Linked DNA regions of Homo sapiens: regions 2, 3, 4 and 5 are each linked to region 1. Evidence: fine-mapped expression QTL. A gene starts in region 1. Each other region holds a variant in brackets. All regions are shown on one strand. Distances are between the middles of the regions.

Evidence for each region. PIP is the estimated chance that this variant, and not a neighbour inherited with it, causes the effect.
Region 2: its variant is fine-mapped to the expression of IPCEF1 in whole blood (TOPMed, PIP above 0.99).
Region 3: its variant is fine-mapped to the expression of IPCEF1 in sun-exposed skin (GTEx, PIP above 0.99).
Region 4: its variant is fine-mapped to the expression of IPCEF1 in whole blood (TOPMed, PIP above 0.99).
Region 5: its variant is fine-mapped to the expression of IPCEF1 in gastroesophageal junction (GTEx, PIP 0.93).

What each region holds. Positions count from the first base shown.
Region 1 is chr6:154,354,816-154,359,921 of GRCh38, reverse strand. IPCEF1 (interaction protein for cytohesin exchange factors 1) reads left to right here and starts at 3,119. Exons shown (of 12, transcript NM_001130700.2): 1 at 3,119-3,250. LOC105378067 (a long non-coding RNA gene) reads left to right here. Exons shown (of 3, transcript XR_007059823.1): 3 at 1-29.
Region 2 is chr6:154,308,672-154,313,777 of GRCh38, reverse strand. The region is part of intron 1 of IPCEF1 (interaction protein for cytohesin exchange factors 1); the gene reads left to right. Among named protein-coding and RNA genes, the nearest start is that of IPCEF1, 46 kb to the left of the region's middle. The variant A/G (reference allele first, on the strand shown) is at 2,632.
Region 3 is chr6:154,392,999-154,398,104 of GRCh38, reverse strand. CNKSR3 (CNKSR family member 3) reads left to right here. Exons shown (of 13, transcript NM_173515.4): 13 at 1-5,106. Among named protein-coding and RNA genes, the nearest start is that of IPCEF1, 39 kb to the right of the region's middle. The variant C/T (reference allele first, on the strand shown) is at 3,127.
Region 4 is chr6:154,246,873-154,251,978 of GRCh38, reverse strand. It overlaps IPCEF1 (interaction protein for cytohesin exchange factors 1), which reads left to right. Exons shown (of 12, transcript NM_001130700.2): 4 at 4,491-4,530. Among named protein-coding and RNA genes, the nearest start is that of IPCEF1, 110 kb to the left of the region's middle. The variant AG/G (reference allele first, on the strand shown) is at 2,069.
Region 5 is chr6:154,403,525-154,408,630 of GRCh38, reverse strand. CNKSR3 (CNKSR family member 3) reads left to right here. Exons shown (of 13, transcript NM_173515.4): 13 at 1,979-5,106. The coding sequence ends at 2,277. Among named protein-coding and RNA genes, the nearest start is that of IPCEF1, 49 kb to the right of the region's middle. The variant TCTAC/C (reference allele first, on the strand shown) is at 2,742.

The sequences.
Region 1 (5,106 bases):
AGGCGTGGTGACTCATGCCTGTAATCCCATCACTTTGGGAGGCCAAGGTGCACAGATCACCTGAGGTCAGGAGTTTGAGACCAGTCTGGCCGGCATGGTGAAACACTGTCTCTACTAAAAATACAAAACATAGCTGGGTGTGGTGGCACATATCTGTAATCCTGGCTACTCAGGAGGCTGAGGCAGGAGAATCACTTGAACCCTGGAGGCGGAGGTTGCAGTGAGCCGAGATAATTAATGCCACTGCACTCCAGCCTGGGTGACAGAGCAAGACTCTGTCTCAAAAAAAAAAAAAAAAAAAAAAGCACATCATCCATCATCCAGCACATGCTAGATGAGGCTCTTATTGCCAGAATGTGGAGTTCTGACTGTGGAGTGCTCATATCCACATACAATGCCTGTATTCTCTGCATGATTTCACTATGTGTAGAGACGAATCCTCGGTATGCTGCCCGGGGTTGGAATTGTGTGTGTTTGCTGTGCAGAGGCTGGGCGGACAGAGAGATTTGAAAGAGGGGTATGGGAGGGGCTGAGTTCTTACAGACTTTGAATTACTCTTCCTGTTTTCAGTCCTGTCACCCTATCACTCATTTAGCTCTCTTAGCTTCTTTTGGCTTGAGTTCCGGTCCTCTCAGGGATTCAGCACCGCACACGGGCAATTTCCTCCAACGCCGTGTTCTCCTAACTAATGAGATATTGTGGTTCCCCTGCCTGCCTCCATCTGTTATTGCTCCTCCATCGGCTTTCAGGCTGCCAGAAATCTGTTGTGCTCTCCCAAGTTCTGATGCTTTTCCTCCTTTTTTGGGTTATTGTGGGTTTATATCTTTTTTTTTCTTTTGAGACGGAATCTCGCTCTGTCACCCAGGCTGGAGTGCAGTGGCGCGATCTCAGGTCACTGCAACCTCCGCCTCCCAGGTTCAAACGATTCTCCTGCCTCAGCCTTCTGAGAAGCTGGGATTACAGGCTCGTGCCACCAGGCGTGGCTAATTTTTTGTATTTTTAGTAGAGACAGGTTTCACCATGTTAGCCAGGATGGTCTCGATCTCCTGACCTCATGATCTGCCAGCCTGGGGCTCCCAAAGTGTTGGGATTACAGGTGTGAGCCACCGTGCCCGGCCCTATAAACTTTTTATACTTTTCTCATTTTAACGGAGTCTTTGGGGAGGGAGGGAGCAAATCTGTGGTCAGCCCGTCATCTTGAACTGACAGTCCGGCCGTTTTGAGGATTATTCTAATTCTACAAATCATCTTTGCTCAAAGAATTTAAGTGGCTCTATTCTGGCCCCATAAAGGTAAATAACATGTCTTTTGAGGATATCTTTGATGATGGCATCTAAATGTCTGGTGAGAAGCCAGGCCATGCTGTTGATACCACTAAATTCCTTTAATATCACCTAGTACCATTTTTTTTTCTACGTAAAGCAGGGAACTAGAAGACAACTCAATATAGGGAGAAGATGAGGCAGCACTTCCAGAAATAGAAGTGTACACAAACAAGAAGCCGCTGAGAGAACCTTCATTTTGTTCCTGCTCAAAATGTACAGCATCTTCTTTCATTTTTTCACTCCTCCACAGATTTAGTTTACATTTTATCTTTGTCTTAGTCATTCAGGCTGTTATATCAAAACACCGTAGCCTGGGTGGCTTACAAACAAAAGACATTTATTTCTCACAGTTCTGGAGGCTGGACATCCAAGATCAAGGCGCCAGCAGATTCATTGTCTGGTGAGGACCTGCTTCCTCGTTCCTAGGTGACTGTCTTCTGGCCATGTCCTCATATGGTGGAGGGGTGGGCAGATCTCCAGGTTCTCTTTAATAAGAAAATTAATACCATTCATGAGGGCACTGTCCTCATGACCTAATCACTCCCCAAAGGTCCACCTCTAAATACAATCACATTGGGGATTAGGTTTCTATATATTCTATATATTCTATATATATATATATATATATATATATATATTTTATATATATATTATATATATATATTTTATATATATATTATATATATATATTTTATATATATATTATATATATATATTTTATATATATATATATTTTATATATATATTTTATATATATATTATATATATTATATATATTTTATATATATATTATATATATTATATATATTTTATATATATAATATATATATTTTATATATTATATATATATAATATATATAATATATATATTATATATATAATATATATATAATATATATATTATATATAATATATATATAATATATATATAATATATATATTATATATATATATTATATATATATATACACATACATATTTATTTATTTATTTATTTTGAGTTGGAGTCTTGCTCTGTCTCCTAGTCTGGAGTTCAGTGGTGCGATCTCGGCTCACTGCAACCTCTGCCTCCCAGGTTCAAGCAATTCTCCTGCCTCAGCCTCCTGAGTGGTTGGGATTACAGGCATCTGCCACCACGCCCAGCTGTATTCATTTCCCTAGAAGGTATAGAGAAACAAGAAGCTGGTGTTGAAAGGGAGATTGGGAGGGCAGGAATTTGTAATGAGATGGAATATCTCTGACTTTCAGCCTGCCATTTTCCTTTTCCAATGTGGGAAAGAAAAGTTTTGTGGTTAGAGACTCTTCTATGTCTACTGCAAAAGATGGCAGGCTAAGACTTATTTTTATCCTAAAATACGTTTTACAAATGTGTCTGTACCCTCTCTTTATTAGAGCATTATGAACGATTAGGAAAGGAGGAAAGAGGGAAATCTGAAAGAAGATTGAACCTAAAGAGGTTGAAGTGGCATTTCACCCAAAAATGCTGAGAATGACTCTGCAGATCATCTCACCCTCCATGCCTGTAAATGAACATCCTTGCCTCCAAAACAGGAAAGCAGAACCATGAACTGTTCCACCAATGTGCTCGGCAAATGAATACACTGGGCAGTGCTTAGTGATCAATGAACTCAGGCAGATGGGGTGTGCTTGCCTTACATGTACTGTGTCCTGGATATGGGCATCAAGGAAGGGTTTCATAACAATGAGAAGGAAGAACGTTAGGATTGAGGAAGTGGAGATGATACTTCCTCTTCTTTCGAAAGAGCTTTACTCTCTGATCAGCTTTGAATGTTAGTTCTGGGTTGACTGAGTTTCCAGAGCTGAGGCTGCTTTAAGTAGAATCCTCAAGCTTGGCCTCAGAGTACTATGAGGCTTCTGAATCCAGGAATAAGACTGCTCTTGGATTTACTCTCTTTGTATTGCATGTAAGTAACGTCACTTCTTGGCTGATGTATGAGAGGTAACTGCTTGACAGATCAAGATGGCAAAGCAATGGATACCCTAGCACTCTCCTTAGAGTAGTGAGGTAGGAAATATGACTTTGGGGATGTAATATTCACTCAGCTCTCTGTAATCTGGGAAGCCAGGTGCTAAAGATTCTTTAATTCTGTGAAAGCTTTGAAAGAGGAGAGAGTTGTGTACTCACTCTGCTTTTATGTTTCTTAAATGGGTGTTGTCTTGATAGGTGTTTAGACTGCAGACCACAGGTTTGATTTAGAAAAGCACAATTCAGCATGTATTTGGGTCCTGAGGAGTTCATTTGGGGAAGCACTCTGGGGCCGCCCTCTTTCGAGAAAGTGTGTTCTTTGCAAGGGAGCTTCCTTTGCATGGAGGCAGCTGGGGGACATTTTACACTTTGATAAAGGTCTCAGGCTTGCCAAAATATCTCTGGTATAAAAATGAAAGCTAGGTGTTGTTGGTTCAGAGTCTTTTAGTAAGGGTGTCTGGGGCACTTGATTTTTCTTTGCTGGGGTATATGTGAAAGTATTTAATTATAGAAGTCAGAATTATAACCCACTGAAGCATCTTTGACTACAGCAGTGGGCTCTATTAGTCTTGAGTGGCCTATGTGTTCCTAGTGCTGTCCTTGATAAAGTCTAATTTCTATCGAGTTATTTATTTTATGTAGAAAATTGAAACCGAGGGCTGGGCACAATGGCTCACACCTGTAATCCCAGTACTTTGGGTGACCACGGCGAGAGGATCACTTGAGGTCAGGAGTTTGAGACCAGCCTGGGGGCAAAATAATGAGACCTCATCTCTACAGGAAGAAAAAAAAAAAGAAAGAAAAGAAAATAGAAAATAGAATGCCGGGTGCGGTGGCTCACGCTTGTAATCCCAGCACTTTGGGAGCCCAAGGCGGGTGGATCATCTGAGGTCAGGAGTTCGAGACCAGCCTGGCCAACATGATGAAACCCCGTCTCTACTAAAAATACAAAAATTAACTGGGCGTGGGAGCATGCACCTGTAATCCCAGCTACCTGGGAAGCTGAGGCAGGAGAATTGCTTGAACCCGGGAAGCGGAGGTTGCAGTGAGCTGAGATTGCGCCACTGCACTTCAGCCTGGGTGACAGAGCAAGAGTTCATCTCAAAAAAAAAAAAGAAAGAAAGAAAGAAAAGAAACAGAAATGGAAAGAACACACATTTCTTTCTGCTCACATCATGCAAGCAAGGAAGAAAAGGGTGTAAGTTTGTGTATGTGTTGATGAACTCATTCTTTAATTTACCTTATAATTTCCTTCCATTCCTCTTTTTATAAATCAAGTGTCTTTTCTGGAGTGGGTCCATGTATGAACTATTTCAGGCAAGCTGTGTTAAGCAAATATACATCATCAGAGTATGGAAATAGGAAGTTCTTTCCTGCGGTAGTTTGCTGTGGCAATAAGAGATAAGAAATTACTTCATCACTATTGCCTGAGACTTTCCTTTTGACTCGTGCATCCTTTTGAACAGCTCACTTCTGCTTTCCATCCAGCTTGGAGGCTCTGCAGTGTGAGCTGATAATTGCAGTACAGGTTAACAATTTGCAAGTAGGTCTAATGTGGCAAATGGTGTGTGTGTGTGTGTGTGTGTGTGTGTGTGTGTGTGTGTGTGTGTGTGAAGAAAAATCCTAAAAAATAAGCTTTTTAGCCTTAAAGAGAATCCTGCAAATGGAGGAGTTACTTGTGCTCCCAAGTGCTCAGAACAGTGCCTGCTCTCAGTAAATATTTGTTGAATGAATGAATAACTGGCATAATTCATAAAATGAATGTGGTAGGAAAGCCATTGCTTTATCTCTGTT
Region 2 (5,106 bases), 46 kb after region 1:
AGCGAGACCCTGTCTCAAAAAAACAAAAAACAAAACAAAAAAAAGAACCAGAAGATGAATTTCTGGCTTCTTGGTGTTTTACATCTCTTTTATATTAAAGCATACATACAATTCTACACCATTTTGGAATTTACTTGCCTATATAACCGTACAGTAAAGCCTTAATAACTAGAACAGTGATTGAGTTGAAGAGATTAGGCTTAACCAAAACATCTTTCTTTAATAAAGTCATTAGTATAGAAAAGTAGTAAAGAAAAAGGTTTCCAATATCCAGTAGGATAGACTTTTGTAGTCTCTTAAAACATTTTGTTTTACTGTTAAATTGAAATACAACCTATCTATTGTTTAAACTCTCTAAGAAATCTGTGTGACATTAATTTTTTTTCTTTTTCTTTTTTTTTTTGAGACAGAATCTTGCTCTCTTGCTCAAGATGGAGTGGAGTGGCGCGATCTCAGCTCACTGCAACCTCCACCTCCTAGGTTCAAGTGATTCTTCTGCCTCAGCCTCCTGAGTAGCTAAGATTACAGGCACCCACCACTACTACGCTTGGCTAATTTTTGTATTTTTAGAAGAGATGGGGTTTTACCATGTTGGCCAGGCTTGTCTCAAACTCCTGACCTCGGGTGATCTGCCCTCCACAGTCTCCCAAAATGCTGGGATTACAGGCGTGAGCCACTGTGCCCGGCCATGTTTTTTTTTTTTTTTTTTTGAGACAGGGCCTCACAGCCTGCAGTGCAGTGGGGTTGATTTCGGCTCACTGCAACCTTCCCTTCCTGGGCTCAAGTGATCTTCCCACCTTACCCTCCGAAAGTGTTAGGTGTGAGCCACTGTGCCCTGCCCAAGAAAAAGTTCTAAAAAATTTTTTATTTATTCATCTTAAATTGACAAATAAAATTGTACATATTTATGGTTTACAATATGGTGTTTTGAAATATGTGTACATTGTTGCATAGCGAAATCAAGCTCATTAACATATGTGTTACCTCACATAGTTTTTTTGATCATGAGAATACTCAAAATCTCTCTTGGAAATTTTCAAGTATACAATTCACTGTTATTAACTGTGGTCACCATGTTGTACAAGAGCTCTCTTGAACTTATTCCTCCTGTCCAAATAAAAGTTTTGATTCTGGCCAGGTGCGGTGGCTCACACCTGTAATCCCAGCACTTTGGGAGGCTGAGGCGGGCGGATCATGAGGTCAGGAGTTCGAGACCAGCCTGGCCAACATGGTGAAACCCCGTCTCTACTAAAAACACAAAAAATTAGCCGGGTGTGGTGGTGCGTGCCTGTAGTCCCAGTTACTCAGGAGGCTGAGGTAGAAGAATCACTTGAACCCAGGAGGTGGAGGTTACAGTGAGCCGAGATCGTGACACTGCACTCCAGCCCTGGCGACAGAGCAAGACTTTGTCTCAAAAAAAAAAGTTTTGATTCTTTGACCAACTTCTCTCCAATCCTTCCCTCTACACCAGCCCCTGACAACCACCATTATACTCCCTGTTTCTCTAGGTTTGACTTTCTTAGGTTCCACATATAAATGAGATCATACAGTACTTATCTTTTTGTGACTGGCTTATTTCATGTAACAAAATGTCCTCCAGGTTCATCTGTGTTATTGCAAATAACAGGATTGCCTTCTTTTTAAAAGTGTTTTTAAGTGTATTCTATTGTGCATATAGATCACATTTTCTTTATCTGTTCATCTGTCGATGGACAAAGATTGATTGCATATCTTGGCTATTGTGAATAGTGCTGCTATGAATGTGGGGGTATAGACATCTCTTTAATATACTGATTTCATTTCTTTTGGGTAAATATCCAGGATTTATCCAAAAGATAAAGAGATTGCTGGCCCATATCGTAGTTGTATTTTTAATTTTTTGAGAAACTTCCATACTGTTTTCCATATTGGCTGTACTAATTTTCCTTCCCATTGACTGACTACACACAAGAGTTCCCTTTTCTACGCATCTTCACCAACACTTGTTATCTTTCATCTTTTTTTGAAAATAGCCATTCTAACAGGGGTGAGGCGATCTCTCACTACAGTTTTAATTTGTATTTTTGTAATGATTAGTGATATTGAAAATTTTTTTCATACACTTGTTGGCCATTTGTATGTCTTCTTTTGGGAACTATCTATTCTGATTCTTTGCCCATTTAAAAAATTGGGTTATTTAAAAATAAGTGTTTGAGGAAACATAATGAGCACTTTTTTAAAAAACATATTTAGGAAATTGTGGTTCATGGAGAGGGGCATGGCCAGTGGTCAACTGGAAGTATAGCTCTGGAGCTCAAGAGGTCTAGCTTGAAATATGAATTTGGTTGCCATTAGCATTGGTGATAATTCAACAAAAGGTAGTAAGAGAAAGTAAAAAGAACATGAATAAGATCCTAAGGAACACTGATATTTAAGGGATTAAAAGAGGCAAGGGGTTGCAATGAGCTTGAGAAGAGATGAAAGAAGACTGGCAGAAAGTGGAGTACTGAAAGCCAAGAGAAAAAGAGTATTAGGATGGGATCCTGTGCTGCAGGGAGGTTAGTAAGAGAGAGATTGAAAAGCACTCCTTGAACTCAGCAAGAACAAAATGCCTGGCAGTTTTTCTTTCTTATTTTTTATTAATTTATTTTT[A/G]ATTGACAAATAATAATTGTGCATATTTATGGGTTACAATGTGTTGTTTTGATTTATGTATACATTGTAGAAAGATTCAATCAAGATAATTAGCATATTTATTCCCTTCCAACATCATTTGTTTGGAGTGAGGACTTTAAAAATAAATTCTTTTAACAATTCTGCAATATACAATACATTATTATTAACTGTGTTCACCATGCAGTGCAATACAACACCAACACTTACTCCTCCAGTCTAACTAAAACTCTGTGCCCTTTGATCACCATCTTCCCTTTCCCCAACCCTTCCCCAACCATCCCCAGCCCCTAGTAATCCCCTTTCTACTCTCTTTTTCTATGAGATTAAGTTTTTAGATTCCACATATAAGTGAGATCATATAGTATTTGTATTTATATGCCTGGCTTCTTTCATGTAGCATAATGTCCTTCAATTCCATCCATGTTGCAAATTACAGACTCTCCTTCTTTTTTAGGTCTGTATAGTATTCCATGTGTATATACATACCACATTTTGATTCTGTATCTTAACTATTGTGAATAATGCTGAAATAAACATGGGAGTACAGATATCTCTTTGACATACTAATTTCAATTTCTTTGGATATACACCCAGAATACGGATTGCTAGATCATATGGTAATTTTATTTTTAGTTTTTGTGGAACCTCCATACTATTTTCCAAAATGGCTGTACTAATTTACATTCCCACCAACAGTGTGCAAGGGTCTGCATCCTTGCCAACATCCTAGACCTCCTCCCCTTCCTCTAGTTTTCAAAAAAATAGAAAGAAAGAAAATAGCCATTCTAACAGGTATGAGGTGATATCATTGTGGTTTTAATTTGCATTTCCCTGATGGTTAGTGATGTTCAGCATTTTTTCATGCATCTATTTGCCAATCATATGTCCTCTTTTGAGAAATGCCTGGCAGTTTTGATGTGGGCATCTTGATTCAGCTGAGGTTGAGCTCCACTTGTATTATTAGGTCTTGGAGAGCTGACTGTGTGGTAAGAATTGGAGCAGTAGGAACAGACTTCTTTTACAAAGGTTGACTAAAGGGAAAGTTTAAAAATGCACAGCGACGGCCGGGTGTGGTGGCTCACGCCTGTGATCCTAGCAGTTTGGGAGGCCGAGGTGGGTGGATCACTTGAGGTCAGGAGTTCAAGACCAGCCTGGCCAACATGGTGAAACCCTGTCTCTACTAAAAATACAAAAATTAGCCAGGCGTGGTGGCATGCGCCTGTAATCCCAGCTACTTGGGAGGCTGACCCAGGAGATTTGCTTGAACCGGGGAGGCGGAGGTTGCAGTGAGCCAAGATCTCACCATTGCACCCCAGCCTGGGTGACAGAGCAAGACTCCATCTAAAAAAAAAAAAAACAAGAAAAGAAAAGCAGAGTGACTAAATAGCTTTAGCGGAAAGAATTTTATTTTAAGGTGGGTAGAATTTCACAAAGATTGTGGATCAAAGAGGAAAGTAGAGAGGAATTGTCTAAAGATACAGGGCAGATGAAAAAAAATACAGGACAGAGAAGAGACAGTAAATATGCCTTCTCCAAGAACAAGGAGGGCGGCACCTCCCCAGCATAATGAAGGGATTGGTCTTCAATAGGAAGAGAAGGGTAACAGGTATATAAGGATGGTATCTAACAGCTCTGTGAAGAACGGTGAGATGGCTGAATAAGAGACAGCAGGATGTATTGGGGATGTGAAGGTAGAATAACTGCTGGTTTCTTCCATCGGTTGGGTGTCATTAAACACATGTTGTGAGCTCCTGTTGTGCTTCAGGTAGTGTGCTGGCATTAGATGGTGAGCCCTGCCACCATAGAGTGGGGGGACAGATACTCATCTTAATCATACAAATATATCCAAATTTGTGATATTGATAAAGGCTGTGAATGAGCGGTTATTGGCGTTCTGAGACCATGTAATGGGTAGTTTGACTCAGACAGCTCAGGGAAAGTTATCTGTGACAGCTGGAGAGAGTGAGTATATGATACTTAGTAAAAGTGAGTTTCCCTTCTTTTTTAGAAATCACCTTATTTAAAAGAGACAACTTATTTTAGCAAATATTGACCTTCTCCATGTCTCTTTACAAAACTGTCCTCATCTAAGATGACTTAACATATTTGCAAGAAGTTCCTTTTTAAAAAAACAAAAAAACCAAATGTAGATGTTTACACTTTTAAAATGAGAACTGCAAACCATTTTTAGCAGACGGTCCTTGTGTTCCTGAGTTGCAGATGTCACACCTTATCGCATCTAATTTAAATTGAAAAATAGTATTATCCTGTAAAATTGACAACAAAGAGAACATTCTAAAGTATTATCATTTTATGAAGAATCTAGAAATTACAAATGCATGTTAACTCCTTTTGTGCTGTAATAGTGGTTGTGTATTCGTGATTCTTTTACAGTCCTTCAACACAAATTAATTAGTTTTATCCCCAGTTTCAGGTTAAACTCCCCTAAAAGCC
Region 3 (5,106 bases), 38 kb before region 1:
GATTGTGTCCTCCGTGTGTCAGGCAGAGCCCTGTGAAGGTGTGGATATGTGGCCATATTTTACCTGCATAATCTGCAGTTCATATGATTCAGCCTAATGGGTTGCAATGCCCTGAGGACAGAGACCATACTTTTTCTTCCTTTGTCTTTTTAGCGAAATTCAATCCTGTTCTGCGCCTGCGCCACAGTTGCAGGCTGTACTGTCTGCCCTGTGCATCTCACACACCCCCACTGCACTGTGCACCTAGTGATGGCCGCAGATTTGCTTTTACTCATCTTCCAGGGCCTACCCTGTTAATTCCATCACAGTTGCAGGCTGTACTGTCTGCCCTGTGCATCTCACACACCCCCACTGCACTGTGCACCTAGTGATGGCCGCAGATTTGCTTTTACTCATCTGTTTGCAGGGCCTACCCTGTTAATTCCATCACAGTTGCAGGCTCTACTGTCTGCCCTGTGCATGCATCTCACACACCCACTGGACTGTGCACCTAGTTGATGACCACAGATTTGCTCTTACCCATCTATTTCCAGGGCCTGCCACTGTTAATTCCTAGGAAAAAAGAAAAAACAAGCATGGTGGATTGGTTAAATTGGCATTTTATATTGTTTGTGTTCATGGCCATGCCAATGATAAACAAGAGCTGGTCATGGGCATTCAGATCAGATGAGCAATTAAATCCCCTCCAAAAAACAGAAACCTACTTTTAGAGAAGAAAAGAATTAAACCAAGATCTTTCAGGGTTTTGCTTCTCCTTTTGTTTTTAAGGCACTTAAATAAATGGAAGAACATGTAAGCTAACCGTGTTTAGAGTACTATGTTTTACTAGAAAGTGCTACCCTTCTGCAGATTTCTCCTCAATGAAAGAATGCCACTGAAGCACCTTTAATGGTGCCTTTATCCTATAGTCTTATTGAATCATTCTCTTTAGCCAACATAAAATACAAAGCCAGGGTATAAGACTTCATGTAGGTGGTAATTTAAACTAACAATTAGTGAGGCCGGGCGCGGTGGGTCACGCCTGTAATCCCAGCACTTTGGGAGGCTGAGGCAGGTGGATCACAAGGTCAGGAGATCGAGACCATCCTGGCTAACACGGTGAAACCCCGTCTCTACTAAAAATATAAAAAAAAAAAAATTAGCCGGGCGTGGTGGCGGGCGCCTGTAGTCCCAGCTACTCGGGAGGTTGAGGCAGGAGAATGGCGTGAACCCGGGAGGCGCAACTTGCAGTGAGCCGAGATTGCGCCACTGCACTCCAGCCTGGGAGACAGAGCGAGACTCCGTCTCAAAAAAAAAAAAAAAAGAAAACAATTAGTGAATTTTTGCTGATGCTTTCCTTAAACCCCTTACTTAGCACTTAGTTCTGGATTCTTAAATCCTGATAATGGACTCATCCTTCTCGGTCTAGTTACCCCAGTAAGTCCCAAGGTCATCCATATGAGGTCCTCCTTGATCTTACTCTGAATAGAATTAACTGGTCTCTTCTGTTTTTCCATAGCATTGACTCATCGTGTTAGACCAGCTTGAATTGTGAGCCTTTCTAAAGCAGGGTCTGTATAATTTACCCTTATATTTGCTCTGTAGGCAGAGAAAATATTATTGAAGTAACTAGATGGTAAAATTAACTGTGCAATCAGAAAAGAAGTTAGAAAAAATTATTAAAATTTTCTGTGAAAATTGTTTTAATTTTATTAATATATTAAAGCATTTTGCAGACTATTCCATAAAGAATTTTATTACATTGGCTCTCATTTTAAAGAAAACATTATACCAGGTGTCAGAACTCAATCATATTTGTAGGAAGAATAAGCCTTGGCCATCAACAACGCTTCTTTGGTTACAGGATTACAGGAACTGCTGAGAATGTAAGCACTTTCCGAAGTCCACAAAGAACTCATTTAAAGCTCGTACAGGCAGTTTCAAATTAGCCAGGGAAAAGTTAATGGTGGGGAGGTAAGGTCATAGAATGCTCTATAAATGGAGGCGACGTGGAGGACAGTTGCAGTTGTATAACATTTGATTGAAGGAGAGGGATTTGGACCTGAGGAAACCAGGTCTATAAATACTAAGGCTGGCTGGGCACAGTTGGCTCATGCCTGTAATCTCAGCATTTTGGGAGGCTGAGGCCGGTGGATTGCTTGAGCCCAGGAGTTTGAGACCAGCCTGGACAACATGGTGAAACCCTGCCTCCAAACAAACAAAATTAACCGAGTGTGGTGGTGTGCACCTGTAGTCCCAGCTACTCAGGAGGCTGAGATGGGAGGATCTCTTGAGCCTGAGAGGTAGAGGCTGCAGTAAGCCCAGATTGCACCACTGCACTCCAGCCTGGTGACAGAGTGAGACTCCATCTCAAACAAACAAAACGTACATGCATATATAGGCTGTAGACTAAATAGTGAAATATTACTAAGAACCTTCATCCCAAGGGGTTGAGTGGTAGAACCACTGAGAATATTGTTGCTGCTCTTTTGGAGACAACAAACTGCATTAATAAAAGTCTGAGAACAAGAAAGTTGAGTTTTCAAGTAATGTCCTTTGCATATTGCTACATAGGGCTCATCTGAGTCTGTGATGTTCTACTTTGTTGATGAAAGAAAACAAGTGGAAATTCTGCTCCCCCACACATCCTGCACTGCAAAAAGATAACAAGTAGCAGGAGATACTCAATTATGATGCAGTTCAACAAAGAAAACAAATTAAAATAAAGAGATCCTGGGTGGTTAAATACAGAGTCTCCTTTGTAAACAGCAATGGATGATGATGATGACTGTTACCAGGGCTCTGTATGATCATTTTCCCAATTCTTTGGAGTACTTTTTTCAAAAGCACTCTTGTAGAATTAACTGGAAACATAGACTACCCTTCACTCATTACATGGGAAATGGGATTGAATTCTCTTCTTGGCAATGGAAAATACTTGATGCATGCAAATAAGAAAACTCTTACTTTTTCCTTCTCTCCTTGCAGGGGGAGCACGCGTCCTAAGCTTGCCAGGAAGCCCTGCTCTCCTGCCCTGGGCACCTCCGTTCCACTTGACCTTTTCCACCTGTACTCCCTGCATTTTGGTCTCTTGCTCTGGTCTTTAGCCTTCGCATTTTCCTGATGCAGCCCAAACCAGTCACCTCT[C/T]TCCTAGATTCATTCTCTGTGCTCAGACCATCTCTTTCCTTTAGTTCCTGTGACGAAAGAAAATGTATTTGGCCATTGGAGGTATAAGCAACAAAGAATCCAACCCACACAGCTTTATATATGCAGGTTCTCTATATGCTCTTCTTGTGAACAGCGTGGGGAGAGGAAAATAGACTTGGCAAGAGGACTAAGAACAGAATCGGACAGTTATCTGATGGCTTTCCTAAGGTTCAGGAAAGAACAGTGGTCCCTTTGTTGGGCCTTTCTGTTGTTTCTTTGTTTTCAATTTCACTGATTTCTGCTTTTTATTTTCTATTTTCTTCTGTTTCCTTTGGAATTCTTCTTTTTTTTTTTTTTTTTTTTTACTTCTTGTATTAGGCTCATGCTATAACAAACAACCCCCAAATCTCAGTGACTTTACACACTAAGAGTTTACATTTTCCTCATCAACGTCCACTTTGGATGTTCCAGGTTGGGTAATGCTCTGTGGCTGTCCTCTAGCTAGTGACTCAGGGACTTGGGTTGCTCCTGGTGTCTCCAGCGTGGTTATGGTGTCTCCAATTTTGGACTTCAAGGTGACCCAGGCATTATCCACCTGGTAAATTGGGAGATGGGTCCCAGGAAAGTGAATACTCAACCAACCTGGCCTAGAAGTGACAATAATAAGGCCATGTGTGGTGGCTAACAGTCAGAAACCCAACAATTGGGAGATTGAGCTGGGAGGATTGCTTGAGACCAGAAGTTCAAGACCAGCTGGGCACCATAGTGAGACCCTATCTTTCAAAAAAATATAACAACCAGGCTTGGTGGTGTACACCTGTGGTCCCAGCTATTTGGGAGGCTGAGGTGGGATAATCGCTGGAGCCCAGGAGTTTGAGGTTACAGTAAACCAGGTTTACACCACTGCACTCCAGTCTGGATGACAAAGCAAAACCCTCATCTCACAAAAGAAAAGAAATGACAATCACAGCCACTGCAACTTCAAGGAAGGTTGGGAGAGTGATATTGGTCAGGATGAGTGGTCTCTGACATGTTTCTTAAGTTGGATATTTAGCTTATTAATTTACAACTCTTTTCTAATATTAATACTCAAGACTACATTTTCCCCAAAACATTTATTTTGCCATGTTTTGCAAGGCTTGGTATATGGCATTTTCATTACTCTTTAATTCTAACTAATTTTTAATTTCTATTATGATTTATTATTTGATCTATGAATCATTTTGAAATTTGTTTTTGTAACCTTGGATAGGGAAAGATTTCTTATAGAAGACAGTAAAAGGGCTGAGTACAAAAGAAAAGACTAATAAATTCAGCTACGCTAAAGCTTAGAACTTTTCCTCATCATAGGACACCTTAAAGAAAATTTTTAAAAAGTTACAAATTGGGAGAAGATTAAAAAGTCCTAAGGGTTAGCAGTAAGAATATATACATATAATTATTACAAATTGGCAAGAGAATGACAAATCAACACAAAAACGAGCGAAAAGGCATTTTGCAAAAGAGAATCAGATGGTCCATATGCATGTGAAGCGATTTTCACTAGCGAGCAGGGAAAGTGAAGTCAAAATCACAGGGAGATGCTGCTCTCTACCTGACTGGCAAAACTGAAATGATTAGAAAATACTTGGAGGATATCCTAGAACGATCAGTGGGATCTGGTATATTATGTGTATGAGGTTAAATTAGCAGTGAGTATTCACATACCCTATGACTCAGCAGTTTCATTCCTAGATATATATCCTGGGGATTAGAAACACTAAGTAGGTGGGTGCAGTGGCTCACACCTACAATCCCAGCACTTTGGGAGGCCAAGGCAGGTGGATCACTTGAGGTCAGGGGTTCGAGACCAGACTGGCCAACATGGTGAAACCCCATCTCTACTAAAAATACAAAAATTAGCCAGGCGTGGTGGCGGGCACCTGTAATCCCAGCTACTTGGGAGGCTGAGGTGGGAGAATCGCTTGAACCCCGGAGGTG
Region 4 (5,106 bases), 110 kb after region 1:
CATTTCTAACTGTGTTCTCTATGGTGCTAAGTCATTTATTGCAATTGTTTCAGCTAGAAACTCCACGATTTTCCCTGGAACTTTGCTCTTCCCCACTTTCTACATTGTCTTCCTCCTTCTTCCGTCTTCTCTTGCACCCTTCCTGCAGCTCCTTATCTCCTCTCCCTTCCTTCCTCCCCTTCTTCCCAGTCCTCCTTTCATTTCTTCTTTTCCTCTTCTAGGTGGAAAGTGCCGTGGTATCCATCTTCGCCACAATCTCTAGTCCTTGCTTCCCTGCCCTACTTCTTAACAAAACAGCAACAATGCAAACAAATATCCTAACAGTTTACTATGCAGAGTTTTATTCTTGAAATACCTATTTTCACTTTACCATTTACTTTGGTGACTTTGGGCAAAATTCTGAAGCTCCGTTTGCTTTAATTTCCACTTCTGTAAAGTGGATATAATAATAGCACCTGAGCCAGAAAGGTGGCTATGAGAGTTCAATGCTAGTAATCTTGAAAAGACTCAGAGCAGCGCCTGGCACATGCGAGCATGATATGATTATTAAGCTTTATTCATATGTTTTAGCTGTCATTGTGGTTTTTTAAAATAAGAGATGGGATCTTGTTATGTTGTCCAGGCCAGTTTTGAGCTCCTGGGCTCAAGACATCCTCCCACCCCGGCCTCCCAAATCACTGACATAGGCGTGAGTCATCACATCCAACCTCTGTCATTGTTTTTATTACTGCTTCTGTTATTATTGTTAGAATGTCTATTGTCTTTCTTCATTATCCACTACTATGACAGATTATTTCAATTAATGTATTAAGTATTATTTAAGGTGGTTAGTCTTCTGAAAAAATTAAGCAAGCTTTTCATGTTTTCACAGGTAAATGTCTATTAATTGGATGCTTTAGAATCTCCTTTAAAAAGTTGAGTCTATTTTTCTGGGAAGGATAAAAAACGTTTGTGGAGATGTCAGGGGTTTCTGGAAGAACATCCCTAACAGCTCTATCAGTGCTGTGCCGATCTGGTATGGCTCTAAAATAGTCAGGAATTTCTGTGGCTTGGTTGTTAAAATATTGGTAATTTGAAACTGTCAATGATGTGAGGGTTTCTACCACAGAAATTGACAAAAGCCACCAGTTAGGGCTCCTGCAACCAGAGAGCCCATTTTACCAGCATATCACTGTATAGTTTTTGCTAAAGATTAGGATCACTATGAAGTCTGATGTAATGACAGAGCATCTTACTGTGAATTTTAATACATCTTGGGGTAAATTTTGCCTGCAAGGTTTAACAACTACTATATGGATTATAAGTCAATATAACAGTTACCCGTAACCTGGGCGTTAGCCCCAACATTCAATATCAAAGGAGTTTCCTTTGTATATTTTCTACTGGGTCTTTTGTATATTTCCATGTGTTTTTGAGTGATTCGTGGCCAAATGAAGTTTTTGAACCATCTTTTAAAAAGTTAAAGAAAAATACACTTCTTCAATGAAAAAGAAATACATATTTTCAAAGAAAAATTTCCCCTCAACTTTAGAAGTAAGTTAGGGCAAAATCAGATTTTTAGAATAATTTTTTAGTTTTACCTATAACATTCAAACTGGAAGAAAATAGAATGAGAAAATATCTTACTAGGCTCTGAATATTTATGATGATAGCAAGTTATAATTTCCCCTATTGAAAAACCATCTCATAAAATGCTCAACTGGTTGCTTGCTTTTTTTTTTTTTTTACTTACCTAGCGAAAAACCACATGCAAGATCATTTTGAAACGGACTAGTTCACGGGTTCCACTTCCTGTTGTGAGGAGTAAAATCTATCTTAGATGCAATAAAGTTCTCAAAGATTGTTTTCACTGTCTCATATAAACCAATTTAGGTTTCAAATTCATGTATGTTAGGTGAAACTGAAACTCCCTGAATTTGTTATTTCTATAATATGCAGTCTGTTTCTGGTCAGGGAAAACAGTTTTAACAGTTAATAATTTGCTTTAAGAGAATTATTGTCAGAACAGGGTTGACTCAATGACTCAATAACTAAGCTCCCTCCCCCACTTAAAAACAAACAAAAAAAA[AG/G]CCTTTCTTTGAGTTGGGTGCCTGTTCTGCTTGAGGTATTGTTCTCATCCCATCCTAGGCATAAGAACGTGGTGTAGACCAAGGGTTGGTCTTGGGCAGAATTGAGACAAAGCTCACATTTTGGGGCTTTCCCTGGAAGTAGCCCTAAGGTGGAGCCGGAGGGCTCCAGTCCCACTGGGTGCTCACAAGGAATGGGTGGAGGATACTCACTGGTACCCAGCTGGGAGCGATGGAAGGAGCATCACTTCCTCTCTGCCTTGGCTGATCCCATCGCTGCCCTCCAGGGACTTTCCTCTCATTTGTTCATCTGAAGGCTGCTCTTCTTGTTTGAACTAATGTAATTTCATCTTGTTCATTGGAGGCCTGAGCACTCTAGGAATGACTGTTAACAACGCCCTTTTCTCCCTATTCCCCTGGTTCTTGGTTTGTCTCAAGTGCTTGCTAGGGACTCCTGGACCCCAGATTTCCCAAATCTTACCCAGCATCTACATTCACGAATTCTCTTCTTTGTCTTTAGTCCTGGCTCTCAGCTAAAATTTAGCCACTCAAATAATATACATATTTGGGCAAAAATATTTTGCCAATAGGTACTAGTTGGGTTTTACTGATCTCAGAGAATTGGCATATCAAAAAAAGGTCCCAGGAGATGATTTGAGGGAATGATAGGAACTTTAGAACACAAGACAGGTCAGTGTGGGAGATATTTGTGAAGTGAGGCTGAGACTAGGTCCTTTTCATGATAACTTGCCTGGATTTTAGTAACATGCCATGATTATAACATGTCTATCTTTGCTTAAAATTTAAGGTAATTACTGCCATCTTTATGGATGATTAATTTTGGGGGGGATAAATTTTACTCTAACATTGGTCAGATGAAATGTCAGTGCAATATTTCTTGGGATCTATATTTCCCAGGAAATATAATTTAAACACTTTAGCTTCGTTGTAATTGCTGAAGGATACATAAATCATACTTATAAAAATTATGATTTTTTTCTGTTTATTAGATATAAAGTATTTGTTTATCTCAACGATATAATATTATATTACACATACTCATATAAAGGGATGTTGTTTAGTTCTCAGAGGATTTTCACAAATAAATCTTGTAAAATCTTTATAAGACCTATAGGATTAGAATTATTATCAATATCTTCATTTTATAAATGAAGAAGCAGATTCAGAGAGTGCTATTTTCTTGGGCACCACAGCTACTAATTATAATAGCCAGGAATTGGTTCCAGGCCTCTGGATTTAAAGACCTTCTCCTCTTTTCACTATGTCATATCCCTTCTTCAAACATACAGTAGAACCATATACAATAGCTATCAGATCAATAGTTAGATATGTAGACTATAAGCCAGGAACCTCTAGAAAACATTATAAAATGCTGTACTAAGATTACATACCAAATTTTGGAACTGCTTTTCATTTTCACACGTTTTTTCCCCTGAGTTCTCTACCTGTTAACGGAAAAGGTTGTCTTTCAAATTTAAATCAGTTCAGCTTAGATATTTGTAAAGAAAAAACAAATAGAACTTCTTTAAGCAAAATTTTTTTTCTCTCTCTCTACACACACACACACACACACACACACACACACGTATTTTAAAGCACTTAAAAATATTTTTTATTTTTGCTGATAGTCTGATTGTATGTTTGTTTAAAATGTATTGTGGAAAAAATGTATATTTCATATATGTTGTCTTATGTCTGATTTGAAGAGCTAGTACAGAATAGTAGGTGGTAACTAATTTATCTTCCATAAAACGTGAGAAATATTCAGAGATATTTAAAGACAGAATAACAAACTTTAATTTGTCTGTAAATAAGAATTTCCTGATAAGGAGGGTTGATTGCTACTGAACTCTCACTGAAAGAGGTTGTGGAATTTCATTTTCTGGGATATTTAATTCATGTGGTTTAGGTCTAACCCTACGTGGTAGCAGGACTATGAGCTGAATAGTCAAGTGACTCTAATATTTTGAGATTGTAACAATTATCTTCCAGGTTTATCTGAATAATCATTGTTATTTAGAAATTGCAAAAGAAGCAGATATATTTTTCCTTCTCTCACAAAAACACAAAAGGGGAAATATTTTTTGATTTTTAAAACTTCCGTGAACACTGTGCTATCATAACTAAAGTAGTAGTGAGAGCGGCTTGTGGGTGGGAACAGGAAACATCAGTGATAAATGCTCTGTGACTTTTTTTTTTTTTCAGGTTCAGCTCAATGTATATTGATTCTAATTAGCACATTTTGTGCCTCAGCTAGTAGCTCCCCGTTAAGCTCTGCCTGGAGAGTTTTTTTTTAGATTCCATCCTGCTCATAAACACTGCCACCTCCTCCCTCCTTCTCTCTTTACAAATGTTACAACACAATCAGAAATTTCCTCTTTTCTTTCCTTCCTGCATTTTCAGCAGGTTCCCTTGCGTCAGAAGCCCAGGAGGAAAACTCAAGGTAATTAGATCTCTTTTGTTTCTTTATCTCCATTTTGTGTACGTTGAGTGTGGCTTTTCTCCGGGGTGCCTTCCTTGGGATCAGATTTCTGTCTGTCTTAATGCTAATAAGAGGAGGTGGACGGCAGATTAATTTTTGGTTATTGTTGAATCGATTTTAAGAAATGACGACATGTTGTTCATTTGGATTAATCCCTCGTGGTATGTCAAAAGAGCTTAGAAAAACTGGCAGTGAGTCGGGAAGTAGCTGTGTATTGAGGTGGGCATTAACCCTTCAACATCTATTGCATAACTACGGCTGTTATTGTTGAGAGGAGCTATGTTACTGCACTGATATGCCCGCCAGCCTTACAATTTTAATTATTTTCAACTTATTCTTGGTGAATACTATTCTTAGACTAATACTTGCATATTACTCCTGCTGCGCTGTTTCTTTGGCCGTATCTTATACCTTCTAAGCATGAAACAAATGTTTAAAAATAAAACAGACACATGGCTTTTTTTTTTTTTTTTTGCATTGGTTTTGCATAGGTTTTGCATAGGCTTTGCATAAATCTTGGTGAAAAATCCAGCTCCC
Region 5 (5,106 bases), 49 kb before region 1:
TCCTTCTTCAGCCCCTGACAGGCACTCATCTACTCTGTGGATTTGCCTGTTCTGGACATTTCATATAAATAGACTTATGCAACATGTGGCTTTTTGACAATGGGCACTTTTTCAATGTGACTGTTCCCCTTTCATTACAAAAGCAAAGCAAGTACATTGAAAAACATGGAAGGCATGAGAAAATAAAACTCAGCTGGAATCTGTTTCTCTGACCTAAGAAATAATCACTGTGAATGTTTCGTGTGATTTCCAGTTGTTCCTGTATTTACATTTATATACTTAGAAAAATGTGCAAAATGGGAGAAGTTGGCCAGGTGCGGTGGCTCACACCTGTAATCCCAGCACTTTGGGAGGCCAAGGCAGGCGGATCACGAGGTCAGCAGTTCGAGACCAGCCTGGCCAACATGGTGAAACCCCGTCTCTACTAAAAATACAAAAATTGGCCAGGTGTGGTGGTGGGCGCCTGTAGTCTCAGCTATTCGGGAGGCTGAGGCAGGAGAATCTCTTGAACCTGGGAGGCGGAGGTTTCAGTGAGCCCAGACCTCTCCATTGCACTCCAGCCTGGGCAACAGAGTGAGACTCCGTCTCAAAAAAAGGGGAGAAGTAAATATTCAATAATACTATGTAAAAATGAATATTATCTACACCATATTTGAAAAGAATATAGCCGTATTAGAATGCCATCTTATGGCTCTAGCGCCTATTTATTCAACGTGCCACTGTTGGAAATTTAGGTTTTTTTTTTTTTTTTTTTTTTTCAAATTCTAAAATTTGAAAAAGGCTAAAATTTTCTAAATTCTAAAATTTAGAAAACTTAGAATTTAGAAAATTTAGAAAATTCTAAAATTCAAATTCTAAAATTTGAAAAAGGTTTCAGTAGGCTAGGTGTGGTGGCTCATGCCTCTAATCCCAACACTTTGGGATGCTGAGGCAGGTGGATTGCTTGGTCTCAGGATTTCGAGACCGGCTGGGTGTGGTTGTGCGCACCTGTAGTCCCAGCTACTTGGGAGGCTGAGGTGGGAGGATCGCTTGAGCCTGGGAGATGGAGGCTGCAACTAGCTGAGATGGCACCACTGTACTCCAGCCTGAATGACAGTGAGACCCTGTCTCAAAAAATAAAAATAAGCATAAAAATAAATGTTTCAGTAAGCATCCGTGAGTCCATAGATCTTTGCACATTTTGGGGTGTAGAATTTCCGCTTCACAAGGATGCTACATGTTACCAAAGTGTACTGTATTTTAAGTTTCTATTCAGTTTCTTAACATTCCAGCCACATCCCAGGGGGTCTGCTGGCAGTTAGGGCAGGATCACTCTTTTCCTTGTTCGGGAATGTTCCTGAATGCCCAGCTTGAATGCCCTGCATTAAACAATGCATAAACAGTTCTGTTCAGCCATCGCGGGGACACTACACTCTATGGTCCCCACCCACTAAAGGAGACCCGTGTGCTACCTCTCAGGCGCTAAAGCAGCCTAAAGTATGAGGGACCCTTCCCATTTCTGCTTCCAGAGCACCCATTGGTGGGCCCAGCCACAGGTGGGACCTTGTGGCCAATCCAGGGAGGAGAGCAGTAAAGGTATGGTGCCCACATTCAGGGTGGTGGCAGAAGTCTGGGCAGGCCGAGGGCCCTCCAAAGAGCACTGTGTAGGGGATTGTGATTTTTTTTTTTTTTTCCTGGAGGGGACAGAGTCTCGCTCTGTCAACAGCCTGGAGTGCAGTGGCGCGATCTTGGCTCACTGCAACCTCCGCCTCTCGGGTTCAAACGTTTCTCTGAGTAGCTGGGACTACAGGCGCCCGCCACCACGCCAGCTAATTTTTGTATTTTCAGTAGAGACGGGGTTTCACCATGTTGGCCAGGATGGTCTAGATCTCTTGACCTCGTGATCCACCCACCTCGACCTCCCAAAGTGCGGAGATTACAGGTGTGAGCCACCACGCCCGGCTGGGATTGTGACTTAATGGACTTTGTCTGGAAACAGGGGAGGATGCCCTTTGCCGGTATTTCAGTAACGAGCGGATTCCTCCGATCATTGAAGAGAGCTCCTCTCCCCCATACCGGTTCTCCAGACCCACGACCGAGCGGCATCTGGTCCGGGGTGCGGACTACATCCGAGGAAGCAGGTGCTACATCAACTCAGATCTCCACAGCAGCGCCACGATTCCATTCCAGGAGGAAGGGACCAAAAAGAAATCTGGCTCCTCAGCTACGAAGTCCTCGTCCACAGAACCGTCCCTCCTGGTCAGCTGGTTTACGCGCCTCAAACTGTTGACTCACTGAGAGGGACCCTGCTCAGGCCACCTGCCTGGCTCCTGCCCCAAGTGCCTTGCTTTTACAGTGGACAGCCTCTTCTCGTTTCAGCCTCAGTATTATGTAGGGACCTTATGCAATTTCTTTTTCTTTTGAAAAGTTATCTACTGCCCTTCTTGGAAGTTTGCAGGATTGGATGGGAACAAATTCAGAGGATCTTAGGTGCTGGCTTGTGGAGACAAAAGGAGGGAAATGGGTAGAGCCTGTTTGTCTTGCTTCCCCAGAGATAGAATGTGAAGACACGCGCTAGAAATCGCAGTCCTGGCCAGAGACGTTATGGTCATTGTGAGGGACTGGTGGCATTGTTCCTTTTTGAGGGGCTGGGGGGACTCAAATTGGTGGCTGTTTTCACACAGATGTGTTGGTTTGTGGTCCAACTTCTTTATCTGAAAAAGCCAGTGAGAAAACATTTTTGATTTGATTTTTCTAAACTA[TCTAC/C]CATATTTTAAGTGTAGCAGCTTTGACTTTGCAATAACGTGGCAAGTATCTGATTTCTCCTTTGAGGCAGAGGTTTAAGTGTAGGCCTGTTACACTTGTTTGATACCTTTTTCATGACAGTCTCAGTATAGATCAGTTGGTACAGAAATACATGAACACATTTTGATAGGGCTTATTTCACACAAAGAAGTTTATGGTTATTTGTGTGGGGTGGTGTTGTTATATATTATTGTCTTTAAGGGAAAAGAAGCTATAAGATTCGCTGACAGCCAAAGTATCATTTAGAAAAGTGAAGCAACAAGATTTAGGTTGATGAAAGATACATGAGTTTGCATTTTGACCTGTTCAGTGTCTGTCTTCCAGCACGGTGTGTACACTTCTTCAAAATTGTACACAGTTTGCTAATTAGAAATATCTTGGAAAGCCTCATGGTCACTAATTTTCAACTAGCATCAGGTATTTTGAAAACGTGTGTCTGGATATTAACTCTTGTTTAAACTGAATGTATGATATTTTGTTAGAATGGAAAAGTACTATCTTGTTAATTTAAGTATTTTAAATATAGTTGTATATTTTTCTTACTCTTAGTCACCTGTAATTGAAATATTTCTGTTTTGCGTCATACACGAAGCTAGTGAAAAAGAAAGTGCAAGGCATTTTCAGATGAGCAAGTGACTATCGTGGCTGTTGCCAGCAGGGCAGTATTGTTAAAAAAAATCAAAATAAACCCTCCCAAGCATTTTGGGATTTTATGGATTAGAAATGGAAGAACAGGAGAAGCATATGCAAAGTGAAATTGCACGAGGGGAATTTTCTGAGGTATCTTCCTAGGCAGAGCCGAAATCTCCTACTCCAAAATGCCCTTTCTCATACCACCGGAATTGTTGAGTTTGCTGAACTGCCTGGAATTCAGCCCATGAAAATCACTGGAGTTAGGAAACATCTTCCCTTTAAAATGCTTCTGGTGTGGTTAAAGGAACTAGCAACCACTCATGTATAATTACTGTGACTGAATTCAGTCAGGCTGGTTTTTTTTGTTTGTTTGTTTGTTTTTGAGATGGAGTCTCAATCTGTCACCCAGGCTGGAGTGCAGTGGCGCAATCTCAGCTCACTGCAACCTCCACCTTCCAGGTTCAAGCGATTCTCCTGCCTCAGCCTCCCATGTAGCTGGGATTATAGGTGCCCGCCACCATGCCTGGCTAATTTTTGTATTTTTAGTGGAGACGGGGTTTCACTACGTTGGCCAGGCTGGTCTCAAACTCCCAACCTCAACTGATCTGCCGGCCTCAGCCTCCCAAAGTGCTGGGATTACAGGCATGAGCCACCACACCCGGCTCAGTCTGGCTGTTTTCTTCTCTACCTCTAAGACAACTGCCATGAAGATCTGGTATTTCGGCCTGGCGCAGTGGCTCATGCCTGTAATTCCAGAACTTTGGGGGGCCAAGGTGGGTGGATTACCTGGGGTCAGGAGTTCAAGACCAGCCTGGCCAACATGGTGAAACCCTGTCTCTACTAAAAATCAGCTTCGCATGGTGGTGGGCACCTGTAGTCCCAGCTACTCGGGAGGCTGAGGCAGGAGAATCACTTGAACCCTGGAGGCGGAGGTTGTAGTGAGCCAAGATCAGGCCACTGCACTCCAGCCTGGGTGACAGAAGGAGACTCTGTCTCAAAAAAAAAACAAAAAGAAAAAGATCTGGTATTTCATGGAGACATGGAGACCCAAGGGTGTTTGGCAGATGGAGAGAAGAGGCTTGCAGTGTGTGACCACAGGGTGTTCAACACACTAGGAGGGTGGGGTGTGGGCTGGGGAGGTCTCGTGTAGGGCACTGGTGATGAGGAGGGAGCTGTGTACGAGGGGCGAGCCAGCCCTGCCTGTTTTACTCTTGTCTTGAGCTGGCTTTATGCCCAGGAAGTGGGTGGCAACATCTCCTCTTACTCCCCAGATTGTGGGGAGAACTCTAAGAGCTGTAGTTCCACTGGATGATGAGTTAAATCACTCTGGAGGCCTTAGCTGGCTGGTGAGCTCTTTTTCTGTGGGGAAAATGCCACTTGTGAATTGAACAGCCATCCTTTAAGTGAATATTCGGCAGTCAGTCTTCATTATAGGCAGTGGCCAACCAGATTGGTGCTTTTCAGCCTTTGTTCCCTGGAGTCCCAGGACCCGCGAGAGAAGTTCCTGGCTCCTCTACTTGCAGTCACCCTCCACAGCTTCATCTTTCTTTTTATTTGAGGTTTTCTCCTGAATTGTGTTTGAAAAATATATTGCTGCTAAAAAAAAAAAACCTTTGTAAACCTCTACTATGGACATACATAAATAATAGTTTAATATGGATTTCTTAGAAATTAATGGAAACTGCTTGC